Regions from separate parts of the Homo sapiens genome. Here all the other regions are linked to region 1. Evidence: fine-mapped expression QTL. A gene starts in region 1. Each other region holds a variant in brackets. All regions are shown on one strand. Distances are between the middles of the regions. Region 1 holds the start of GALNT17 (polypeptide N-acetylgalactosaminyltransferase 17). Region 2 overlaps GALNT17 (polypeptide N-acetylgalactosaminyltransferase 17). Region 3 overlaps GALNT17 (polypeptide N-acetylgalactosaminyltransferase 17). Region 4 overlaps GALNT17 (polypeptide N-acetylgalactosaminyltransferase 17).

Evidence for each region.
Region 2: its variant is fine-mapped to the expression of GALNT17 in spleen (GTEx, PIP above 0.99).
Region 3: its variant is fine-mapped to the expression of GALNT17 in skeletal muscle (GTEx, PIP above 0.99).
Region 4: its variant is fine-mapped to the expression of GALNT17 in testis (GTEx, PIP above 0.99).

The regions. Positions count from the first base shown.
Region 1 is chr7:71,131,095-71,133,778 of GRCh38, forward strand. It overlaps GALNT17 (polypeptide N-acetylgalactosaminyltransferase 17), which reads left to right and starts at 1,050. Exons shown (of 11, transcript NM_022479.3): 1 at 1,050-1,946. The coding sequence starts at 1,709.
Region 2 is chr7:71,494,834-71,497,517 of GRCh38, forward strand. The region is part of intron 5 of GALNT17 (polypeptide N-acetylgalactosaminyltransferase 17); the gene reads left to right. Among named protein-coding and RNA genes, the nearest start is that of MIR3914-1, 190 kb to the left of the region's middle. The variant A/G (reference allele first, on the strand shown) is at 1,075.
Region 3 is chr7:71,243,270-71,245,953 of GRCh38, forward strand. The region is part of intron 1 of GALNT17 (polypeptide N-acetylgalactosaminyltransferase 17); the gene reads left to right. Among named protein-coding and RNA genes, the nearest start is that of MIR3914-2, 63 kb to the right of the region's middle. The variant G/A (reference allele first, on the strand shown) is at 1,074.
Region 4 is chr7:71,219,078-71,221,761 of GRCh38, forward strand. All of the region lies in intron 1 of GALNT17 (polypeptide N-acetylgalactosaminyltransferase 17), which reads left to right. Among named protein-coding and RNA genes, the nearest start is that of MIR3914-2, 87 kb to the right of the region's middle. The variant T/C (reference allele first, on the strand shown) is at 1,371.

The DNA.
Region 1 (2,684 bases):
TGGGTTTTGGGAAGAGGAAGAGGTAGTGGAAAACCAGGAGCCAAATGAATATGCTTCTTATAATAAAATTTGAACAGAGCAGCGGGTGGGCCTAGAAGCAGTGACTGGGGAGGTTAGAATTCTTGCACGCAGAGAACCCCCCCAAGCCCGCTCACGCCCGGCCTGGCTCCGAAGGTCTCAGAATCCGAGCCTCCAGGCCAGATTTTCCCTCTAGCCATTCCTGGCCACGCAGCGCGGAGCCGCGAGCACACAGAAAAGGATGTCTTCATCGCCAACCGGGATGGAACGAACCCGCCCGCTCAGGGAGTACTGAGAACTAAAGGGTCCCTCCAGCGCCGGCCGCAGCCAGCATGCCTTGACTGCCTCCATCCCGCGCGGTCCCCACTCTCCAGAAGCCCCCGCCCTGCCCGGGTGCGCGCGCGCACGAGTCGGCGAACCGGGGAGCTGTGCGCTCGGCAGCCTGCGGGCGGCGGCGGCGGCCGCCGACAGCCTCTCGGGGACAGGGTGGCGAAGAGCGGCGGAGGAGGAGCTGGCGCCGCCGCCGCTCCCCTCGGGCCGCGCCCCGCCCTCCGCCGCCACCTGCGCGTCCCCTCCGGGCTCCTCAGCTCCGGGGCTGTGTGGCTCTCGGTGCCGCAGCGGCGGTGTCACCGCGTCCGCCAATTGGGAGACTCGGCGTTTTGGCTCCCGGGGGCGCGGGACGAGCCGCGCGGCCGGATCTGGCGAGCGGAGGGTGATTCGGCACGCGTACCTCCCCGCCGCGCTGCCCGCGACGTTTTGGGAGGGGGTAGAGAACTGCTGTGACTTTTGAGGTCCGACTCCTTCCGGCCAGCCTCGCGACGCGCCAGCTCCGAGACAGGCCGGTGTGCCCTGAAGGCCCCGAAGGCTCTCGGCGCGGTTTGGGGGCTTGGAACGTGTCCGGGAGCCGGCGGCGCTGTGAGCGCTGGTGAGTTTGCCGGCGGGGTGGGGTGGACTCCGCGCGGGGGGCGGAGAGGACGTAGCGCTCGGCCCGGCGCCCGCCCCCTAGTGCTGCCCCCACTTTGAGAGTAATTGAGACTTGAGCGTGACTGCGGAGCCTGGAGGATGCGGGCTCCCCGAGCGGGCTTCCCCTCTGCCCGGCGCGATGGAGCGGGTCGGTGAGCGGAACAAAGGCGCCTGCCCGGGGGAGCGGGTCTTCCGCTGAAGAGCGCGGGTGGCGCGCCGCGACGGCCGCCTGCGGGCCAAGGTGGGAGGCTGTGCGGCCCCAGGCGCGGCGCGCTCCGCCGTGGGCGGGCGGCGATCCCTGAGTCCGGCACCTGTGCGCCGCTCCCTCTGTGCCTCCCGGGCAGCCCCGCCTGCCGGCCTCGGAGTCCGCGGCGCCGGCGGCTAGAGGTCCAGAGGCGAACCACTTGCTGGTGCAGAAGAGAAACCCTCAAATCCCTGGCCTTTCGCGGAGACGCCTGGACGGGGCCGTGCGCCGTGGACTGAGCAGGCGTCTCGGGGAGCACTTCTGCAGAGCGAGGACTTCCATGTGAGCGATTCCGTTCTCCCCACCACCAATCCGACCTCCCAGCCGTCTCCGCCGCCCGAGCATCCTTGAGGTGGGACGAGCAGGGGCTTGGATCCCTGCCGGCCGTCTGGTGTGTGAGGCTTGCACGGCCCCTGGCTGCCCCGCGCCTCGCCGGAGCCCGAGGGGGCGCAGGTCCGGGGCGAGGGCCGGCCGGGCTGTTTGATGGCTTCACTGAGAAGAGTCAAAGTGCTGTTGGTGTTGAACTTGATCGCGGTAGCCGGCTTCGTGCTCTTCCTGGCCAAGTGCCGGCCCATCGCGGTGCGCAGCGGAGACGCCTTCCACGAGATCCGGCCGCGCGCCGAGGTGGCCAACCTCAGCGCGCACAGCGCCAGCCCCATCCAGGATGCGGTCCTGAAGCGCCTGTCGCTGCTGGAGGACATCGTGTACCGGCAGCTGAATGGTAAGGACGCACGCCGGCGCCTCCGGGGCTCGACGCGGGCGGGCCGGGCACAGGGTGAGCCCCAGGGTCCTTGCGCGCTGCGCCCTGTGCCTGGGAGCCGGCACACCCTGGCTCCCGCGCGCTCCTTCTTACCCTTCCTGCCCCGTTTCGGGCAGATGGCCGGGGCTGCTGGAAAGAACAACTTGCCTGATTCTTTTCTGTGCCCCACCTGCAAATTTGGTTTTATCCTGGAAACATGTCAGTACAGTTGGCTCCCGGTCCCCGCGTGCGGACTGGAAATCATTCCCTGGCGACTCCAGCCCGAGCGCAGAAACTAGTGGAGGGGCCACATGGGACTGGAGGCGCGCGGGCAGACGTGTAGGAGGAAATAGTCTTAGAGCCCAGCGTTTGGTGGGGTACCAGTAGGGAACCTGGGAGATTGGAGGGCTTGGATGTCTGCAGACAAAGTCAAGGCCCCAGGTCGCGGAGCTAATGCGCTTAGGTAGTATATGGGAGGAATATGTCATCTGTCTATGAGGCGAGCTGCTCAGCTAAGAATGAGGACTCCTCCCTTCCTGCCGCCTGTGTTTCTCCTTGGGGGCTGCGGAGGGGCGATTGTTAAAGCTCAGGGTGGGCCTGCGAAGTTTCCAGAATGTAGCACAGAGAGATGTGGCATCCCATTAGTGACAGTTGTCTGAATCTGTCCCATCTAAAATGTTGTGCTCAGTACTTCAGGAGAAGAGGGAGACTTTTTATGTG
Region 2 (2,684 bases), 360 kb after region 1:
ACATGGCAGCAGGCAGGAAAGCTTGTGCGGGGGAACTCCCGTTTATACAACCATCAGATCGCGTGAGACTTACTCACTACCACAAGAACAGTATGGAGGCAACTGCCCCCATGATTCAATTGTCTCCACCTGGTACAAATCAAGGTGAGATTTGGGGCCAGGTGCAGTGGCTCATGCCTGTAATCCCATCACTTTGGGAGACTGAGGCAGGTAGATCACCTGAGGTCAGGAATTTGAGACCAGCCTGGCTAACACATAGTGAAACCCTGTCTCTACTAAAAAAAATACAGAAACTAGCTGGGCATGGTGGTGCACACCTGTAGTCCCAGCTACTTGGGAAGCTGAGGCAGGAGAAATGCTTGAACCCAGGAGGCAGAGGCTGCAGTGAGCTGAGACTGTGCCACTGCACTCCAGCCTGGGTGACAGAGCAAGACACCATCTCAAAAAAAAAAGAAAAGAAAAGGTGAGGTTTGGGTGGGGACACAGCCAAGCCATATCAGAAGACAAGCAAAGACACTGTACTCCATATTCTGTGATAATAGCAATGACAACCATAGCAGTTTTCTTTTTTGAGCACTTAATGTGTGCCAGGCATTGTGCTGCTAACATCTGTCTATGGATTAGTAACATAATTAATCAAAATAACCTCGGTGGGGAGGCATTATTATTATCATTATTTTTATTTTACAAGTCAGGCAGAAAGAGGTTAAGATAGCATGCCCAGGACTAGTAGGCAACAGAGCTGAATTTAAGTGCAGGGCCGAGGTCTGATCCCCAGTGGCCAGGCCCCTAATGACTGATCTCCTGACCCGGCCTGGAATGGGAGCACTATACCTTGGCTCATTCCCAGTAACTGGAGGATGCTTGATGGTCACATGTAGAGGCTGATCATTCCTCTGCTTGAATTGGGCATCGTAATAATGCCTTTCCTACATATCATGGCCACTTTCCCTTCCTGTCTCCAATTGTATAGGGAATTGCAGGGTAGGGAAGAGAGGACTCCAGGAGTATCTGATTTTGGTCTAGAGACTGATAAAAATGGGAAGTCCAGGGATCAGCAGGTGCCACCAGGGC[A/G]GATGTAAATGATGTCCTTGAGAAGCAAAGAATATTGAGAGTCCAGCCTGCCAAGGTTCGTGATGTCCGCTGCTGCCCACCCCTGCTGTTGCTGATATTGAATGGCAAGGCCAGAAGGCATGGGAACACCATCTGTGGGGGCTCCAGCAGGAAGAGAAAGCACTGGGAACCCATGTGCTCTTTTCGTCCTACAGATGGTCGAGACTTAGAGAGACAAGAACAGCCCCAATGTACTATTATTTTAGTTGCCCTGTCTTAGTTGCACAGGGAAGAGGACTTCAGCAGCTCCCAGGACTTGAATGTGAAGGACCCTGCAGTGGGGAGGCCGGGGGATCAAGGGAATCCCCAGGTGGCAGAAGGGGCCAGCAGCTGGGAGCCAGGCCCCAGAGTTTGTGCTGGCTCAAAGCATCAGTGGGCCAGTTGGAGACCGGGCTGTCTTACTCTGGTGGGGGTGGGGAGACATCTTTAGCATTTGAGGGGAGCATCTTTCTAGAGAAACAGCAGGGCATAGGACCTGTTTGGTGGACCTCACGTATTGGTGAGGTCACTAGCCACAGGTTGAACCAAAGGAAGTCAAAATGAGGACAGAGACCCCTCTCCGCACAGACATCGTCCAGTGACATAGAAATGATCTCCGCCTTCCTTTCCACCTGCCCTCCTTCCCCGAAGCCCAACCTGAAAGGAGTGGAGGAGAGAGACCATGAGGGAGGGTGAGGAGGAAGGCACTACAGAAACAGACAGCACCCTCTTTCCTGTCCTAAGCCCCCAGCTGCCCTGAGGAAGCATAAGAGCCATGAAAACAGAGTGAGTTCAGTGTTCTCAATTGAACCGGCCTAAATATCAATCACTGAAAATGACCTGGGCCGGATGGGGTGGGGTGGGGAGCGGGGGGCGGAGCACTTACACCTGTAATCCTAGCACTTTGGGCGGCCAAGGCAGGAGGATTGCTCGAGGCCAGGAGTCTGAGACCAGCCTGGGCAAAGTAGCGAGACCATGTCTATACAAAAATTAAAAAAAAAAAATAACCAAGTATGATGGCATGCACCTGTAGTCCCAGCTACTCAGGAGGCTGAGGCAGGAGGATCACTTGAGCCCAGGACTTTGAGGCTGCAGTGAGCTATGATCAAGCCACTGGTGACACAGTGAGACCCTGAATCTCTCTCTCTAAAAGAAGAAAATGATCTGAAAGTTAGGAAAATGATCTGAAAGTTAGGAAATTTGTCTAGGGAGGGAGATGTGGGTCCTCATCCTCTAACTGGGAGCCAGGACTGGATACATTTGACATTTGTATCTGCAATGAGCTGACCTTCTTCTGTGCACTAATCCACTAATGCTGCCATAACACACATTGTGCAAACTGTGTGCCATAGCATAGATTAAGTGGTTTAAACAAGAAACATTTATTTTTTCACAACTCTGGAGGCCAGAAATCCGAGATGAGCATGCAAGCAGCGTTGGTTCTTTCTGAGGCCTCTCTCCTTGGCTTGTCGAAGGCTGTCTTCTCTCTGGGGCCTCACAGTCTTTCCTCAGTCACATTCTGGGTGTGTCTCTGTCCATTTCCTCTTCTTTTAAGGACAGTGAGCACACCGAATTACGGCCCACTCTAATAC
Region 3 (2,684 bases), 110 kb after region 1:
AGCTGTGAGTCAATTAAATCTCTTTTCTCTATAAATTACCTCTTTTCTTTATAATTAAACCTCTTTTCTTTATAAATTACCCAGTCTCAGATATGTCTTTATGGCAGTGCGAAAATAGACTAATACATCTACTCTTCAATGATTTCAGTGTCTGCTCATCATTCTTGTCTAATATAATTCCGGCTTGCTTTATGATGTATAACATGTTGGGCGACCTTAATTCTACTAAAGGTTTCTTTTCCACAAGCAGAAATATGCAATCCTTCAACTTCCTTTGCTATTGTTTCTCTTTTCTTTTCTTGTCTTTTCTTTTCTTATTGAGATGGGGTCTTGCTAAGTTGCCCAGGCTGGACTCAAACTCCTGAGTTCAAGTGACCCCCCCATCTTGGCCTCCAGAGTAGCTGGGACTACAGGTGGGTGCTGCTGCATCCAGCCCTTTAACTTCCTTCGATCTTGTTCTTATTTTCCTTTTTGAGACCTCATAAAACAGCACATTTGGGGGCAGATAGTATGAGGAATGAGAAAAAACAACGGCCAAACTTGTGCAAAAATGAAAAATGTCTGTTCATAAAAGGACTGAAACAAGTCTATTGAATTTGGCCATGATGAGGTCATGATGTCGTTGGCAGGATCAAGAGTTTGTGGAAGCCAGATTGAAGTGGGGTGGGGTGTGAAATGAGAAAATGGGAAAATGGAACCGATGTGGATGACTATGCCAAGAAATTGGATTGAGAACTGGGGAAAGGGAGATGGAGGTGCAGGGTTAGAGGTGGCGTTTTCTGTGCCTGTGTTTAGGAAGGGAGTGACTAGAGCAGTTTAGCAGTTAAGAAGAGAGTGTGGATACAGAACTGCTCCAGCATCCGCCTGCTGCTACTGCATGCCCAGCTCTGCTCCGTCCAGATCCTGCCTGGCTGCACAGGCACCTCCTGAACTCTTCTAGTTCAATGCATCCTTCTTGGCTCCCACTTGCTCATTCTCTCTGGGTCTGCTGTCATCAGGGAGAATGCTTGCCAAGGTCATTAAGGGTTGATTGACACTAAGACATTTCAGTAATTCCTGGCATTTGGAGTTCT[G/A]ACACCTAACACTGTAGCGTTTGGTTTCACGGCTCTTTTATTTTCTGGGAGCATTCCAGTAAGAGAGAAGAGAGCCTGATGGTCAGGAGCTGAGTCTTTGGAGACACACAGATCTGAGTTTGAACCTCAACTCTGCCCTTTATTAGTTGTGTGACCTTGAGCAAGTCATCCCACTCCTTTATCCCCATCTGTAAATAAAATGAGATAATAAAAATGCCAACCCCTTAGGCTTATGGTGAGGAATGAAGAGAGATTACGTGACAACTTTGTGGAAATGAAGATTTTAGAATGAAGGCAGAGACTGGGATCCCTCCCATTCCCAATACTTGGATTAAAAGTTGCCCAGGTGCGGTGGCTCATGCTTGCAACACTGAGGTGGAAGGATCATTTAAGGCCAGGAACTGGAGACCAGCCTGGGCAACATAGTGAGACCTTATCTCTACAAAAAAATTTAAAAATTAACTGGGCATGGTGGTGCACACCTGTAGTTCTAGTTGCTTGGGAGGCCAAGACGGGAGGATCACTTGAGCCCAGGGGTTCAAGGCTGCATTGAGCTATCATGGCACCACTGCACTCCAGCCTGGGATACAGAGCGAGACCCTATCTCCAGAAAAAAAAAAATCAACCAAAAAAAACCTCTGTCTTTTGGGAAGGACCCCTAGGAAGAAATGGATGTTTCTCAGGAAAAGCAATTAATCGATGTCACCTAGCCCCACTCTAGGACCTTCCAAATGCCTCTTGGTATCTGTGTTCTTTTCTTGGCTCCTGGATAATAAGTGGTTGAAATAATTACGTTCTAAGTCTTTGGCACCCATCTGCCCTCGTCCTCCATCCACTCGCTTGGTGGAGCCTTTGTCATTGTCGACAATAATATGACTGAAGTCTGTGGGCTTTTCTAACCCCACACATGATCTATACCAAGTGGGAAGATTCTGTGGGGGCCGTGCTAAGAGAGTGTGCTAAAAAGAGAGACTATTTTAAAAAACCATCCTAATTTTGTGAGGCAGAATGTTGTTGCCATTTTTACTTTGTGCTGCCTGTCATCCACGGGTGTAAAGAAGGGCACAGGTATGGAGTAGTCTATGCTCATGGTGACATTCCAGGCACATTTGTTGTCCTTGGGATGTTTGGAAAAGGGGGAGGCAGGTGGAAAATTTGGCCATGTCTGGCCAAATCTAGGTGAAAAAATAATGCTTTGCTGTGAAAGAGTGGAGACTTGGGAGCAATCTCTGGGCGTATGTGCAACCTCTAGTTCTGGGTCTCTGAAGGTTAACGCCCTGTGGACACTGGGGACTGAACTGGTTTAGATTTTTCTGTCTCTTTAATGGGCAAAGGCTAGAGATAATGAAGGTGAGTTCTGTGTGTAAATTAGTATTTCAAATTAGCTTCTGGAGGTGGAAAATTCTTTTAAAGAGGAGCACAGAGATCACTCAGTAAAAACAGGAGAAATCAATAGGGGAAGACTGGTGTGAATTGGGAAAGGTCTGCAGAGAGCAAGAGAGCAGGTTTTTTTTTTTTTTTTGCAAAGGTATCTTTGCACTCCTACCCTGTATAAGTGAGATTTTGCCTGGACCCCATAGCTGGTGGCCTTGTAAAATCAGAATCACACCT
Region 4 (2,684 bases), 88 kb after region 1:
GTACTACGTGACAGTCACCTCAGATGTCCCATCTCATATGATATTTGCAGCAACTCTATTAGGTAAACACTATTTTTGCTTTCATTTTACAAATTAGGTAAGTGAAGCATAGAGAGGTTAAATAACTTGAGGGTAATTCTTCCAAGGGGGTGGAGTCAGATTCACACCCAAACAATCTCTCCTGTCTACTGCATTGTCATTAAGAGTGATGAAGAGCCCAAGAACCAGCCTCATTCTAGCCTTTACCAATATGTGTATCTCTTTCTTATTTTTGGTTTACTTTCTCAGAATCTTTGGTTCTAGTAGATTTTTAAAATTAAACCTTTGTTTCCTCTGCCATCTCTGTTATCTCTTTCTGGAATGCTTCTGTGTCAGGTGCTAGATCTCAGTTGATCACTTGCTTTTTATTCTCTCACTTTTTTTGGTCTTTTAATTTAATTTTCTGAAAAATTTCTTCAATTTGATCTTCCAACTCTTCTGGAGTTTTAAATTTTTTGTTATATTTAATTTCCAAGAGCCTTTCTTATTTCCTGACTTTTCCTTTTTCTAAGTATCCTGTTCTTGTTTAATGAATATGGTATCTTTCCCTCGATTCTCTGAGGATGATAAGGGGGTTTCCCTTGTGTTCTGCAAGGGGTCTGTCTACTCCTTGCTCCAAGTGTATTTTACCTATTTGTAGGCTTTTATGTCTGTCCTCATATTTTTATTTTCCTCAAATGTCTGGTGATGCTTTGTTCTTTTGTATTTATGAGGAAGGCACTAATATGTTTGGTAGCTTTCTGTGCATTGTGGTGGTAAGAGGAAGCCAATGGTTCTCACTGGTAGGTGCTCTGGCAGGTGGATGGCTGTTTTGCTGGGTGTATGAAATGAATTATGTCCCTCCAAAATTCATTTGTTGAGTCCTGTGAACCTAAGTTCTCTGAAAAGTAATTTGGAGGAAAGAGACTTCATTCCAGTGAATAGTTTGCAAACAAGGGAGCCACGTCTTTGGTGTAAAACAAAGGTGAGTTCCAGAGAACAAATACGTTCAGGGTTTATAGCAAAACTCCCTGCTGAGGTTCCCAATTAAGTCCATTTATGCAAATGAAGGATTTGGACTTGCTTAGTTCTGGTTGGTCACACAGCCGAATCATGACTGGTTGATGTGGTTGAACCCTGACTGGATGGAGCGGGTGAGCTCTGATTGGTTGGTTTCCAAGCCCCAAACCAGAAGTCTCTGTTAGACCTTTCAAAAGGCCAGTTGGGAGGTGGGGGAATTCTTGCTTCAGTTTATCTTGGCACCAACAACAGAAACTGGTTTGGCTTGATTGTAGAAAGGGAGGTCCTGTGATATTTTCATAACATCTTTCTGAGAACACATTGTACGTGAC[T/C]TTCATAACATCTTTCTGAGAACACAGTGTATGCGACTGAACCTTCACCCAGCCATGACCACCTGGTTCTGCTCTAACTCACCCTAAATAGCCATGGGGTGTAGTTCATTTTATCTGTCAGCAGAGGCATACTTTTATGGTCCTAACCTCAAGTATCTCGGAATGTGTCTGTACTTGGAGATAGGGCTTTGAAAGAGAAAATGGGAGTTAAACGAGGTCACTGGGGTGGCCCTTAATCCAATATGCCTGGTGTCCTCGTAAGAAAAGGAGATTAGGACACAGACACACAGGGGGAAGACCATGTGAAGACACTTGGAAGATACAGCCATCTACAAGCCAAGGAGAGACGTCTCAGAATGAAACCAACCCTGCTGACAGCTTGGACTTTCAGCCTCCAGAACTGTGAAAAAATAAATTTCTGGTGTTCAATACACCCCCCTCTGTATTAGTTTGTAATGGCAAACTAATATATGAAGTGAAGCCCAAATACCCATATCTATAGATCTTTCCTCTAGGGCTATTCAGTTTTCCTAGAGAGGAAACTTCTAGTATTCTGCTGGGAGTCTAGGCCTGCTGTGTGCATGCTGGGCGCTGAGCCTCATGAAGGAGCTCAGGACTCTCCATCTGGGATCTAGACTTTCATGGAACTTTCCTTTGCTCCCATTACCCCTTGCCCTTTTCTGTGCCTGGGACCCCAGCCCTGGAGCCCCTAGTGGGAGGTACTCAGCTGTCTGGGTGGAATTGGCACAGGGGTGGACTATGGAGGACTAAGGGGAGAGCAGCATTCTATCCATGTTCCCACAAAAGACAGGATCTCCTTTTTCATGGCTGCATAGTATTTCATGGTGTATGTGTACCACATTTTCTTTATCCAATCTGTCATTGATGGGCATTTAGGTTGATTCCATGTAACCTTATACAGAATTACAGCCATGCTTTTTTTTTTTTTTTTTTTTTTTCCAACCCTACAACTTGTTCCTCACCTCCCGGAGCCTCCTCTCTGGGGTCCTGGGCATGAATTAACATCTCCCTCCGTAGCCAATTGGAATTCCACTCGGCTGACTTCTCCTTCATTTCTTCTTTCAAACTTCTGTTCGTGTTGCCTGTCTGCAGTCTCCTTTTGCTTTCTTGTCCTTGTAAATCCATAGATTCTCCCTGCTATGGACTGACCATAAGGGACTAATTGATAGTGCAGTGGTCAGGCTGATGTCAGCATGCTTCTGCAGTGGAGGAATCTGACCCAGAAACTCATCTCTTTGCATCTCTGCACGCTGCTGCCTTTGATGTAAGCTTCATTTTTAACTTTGTGTTTTG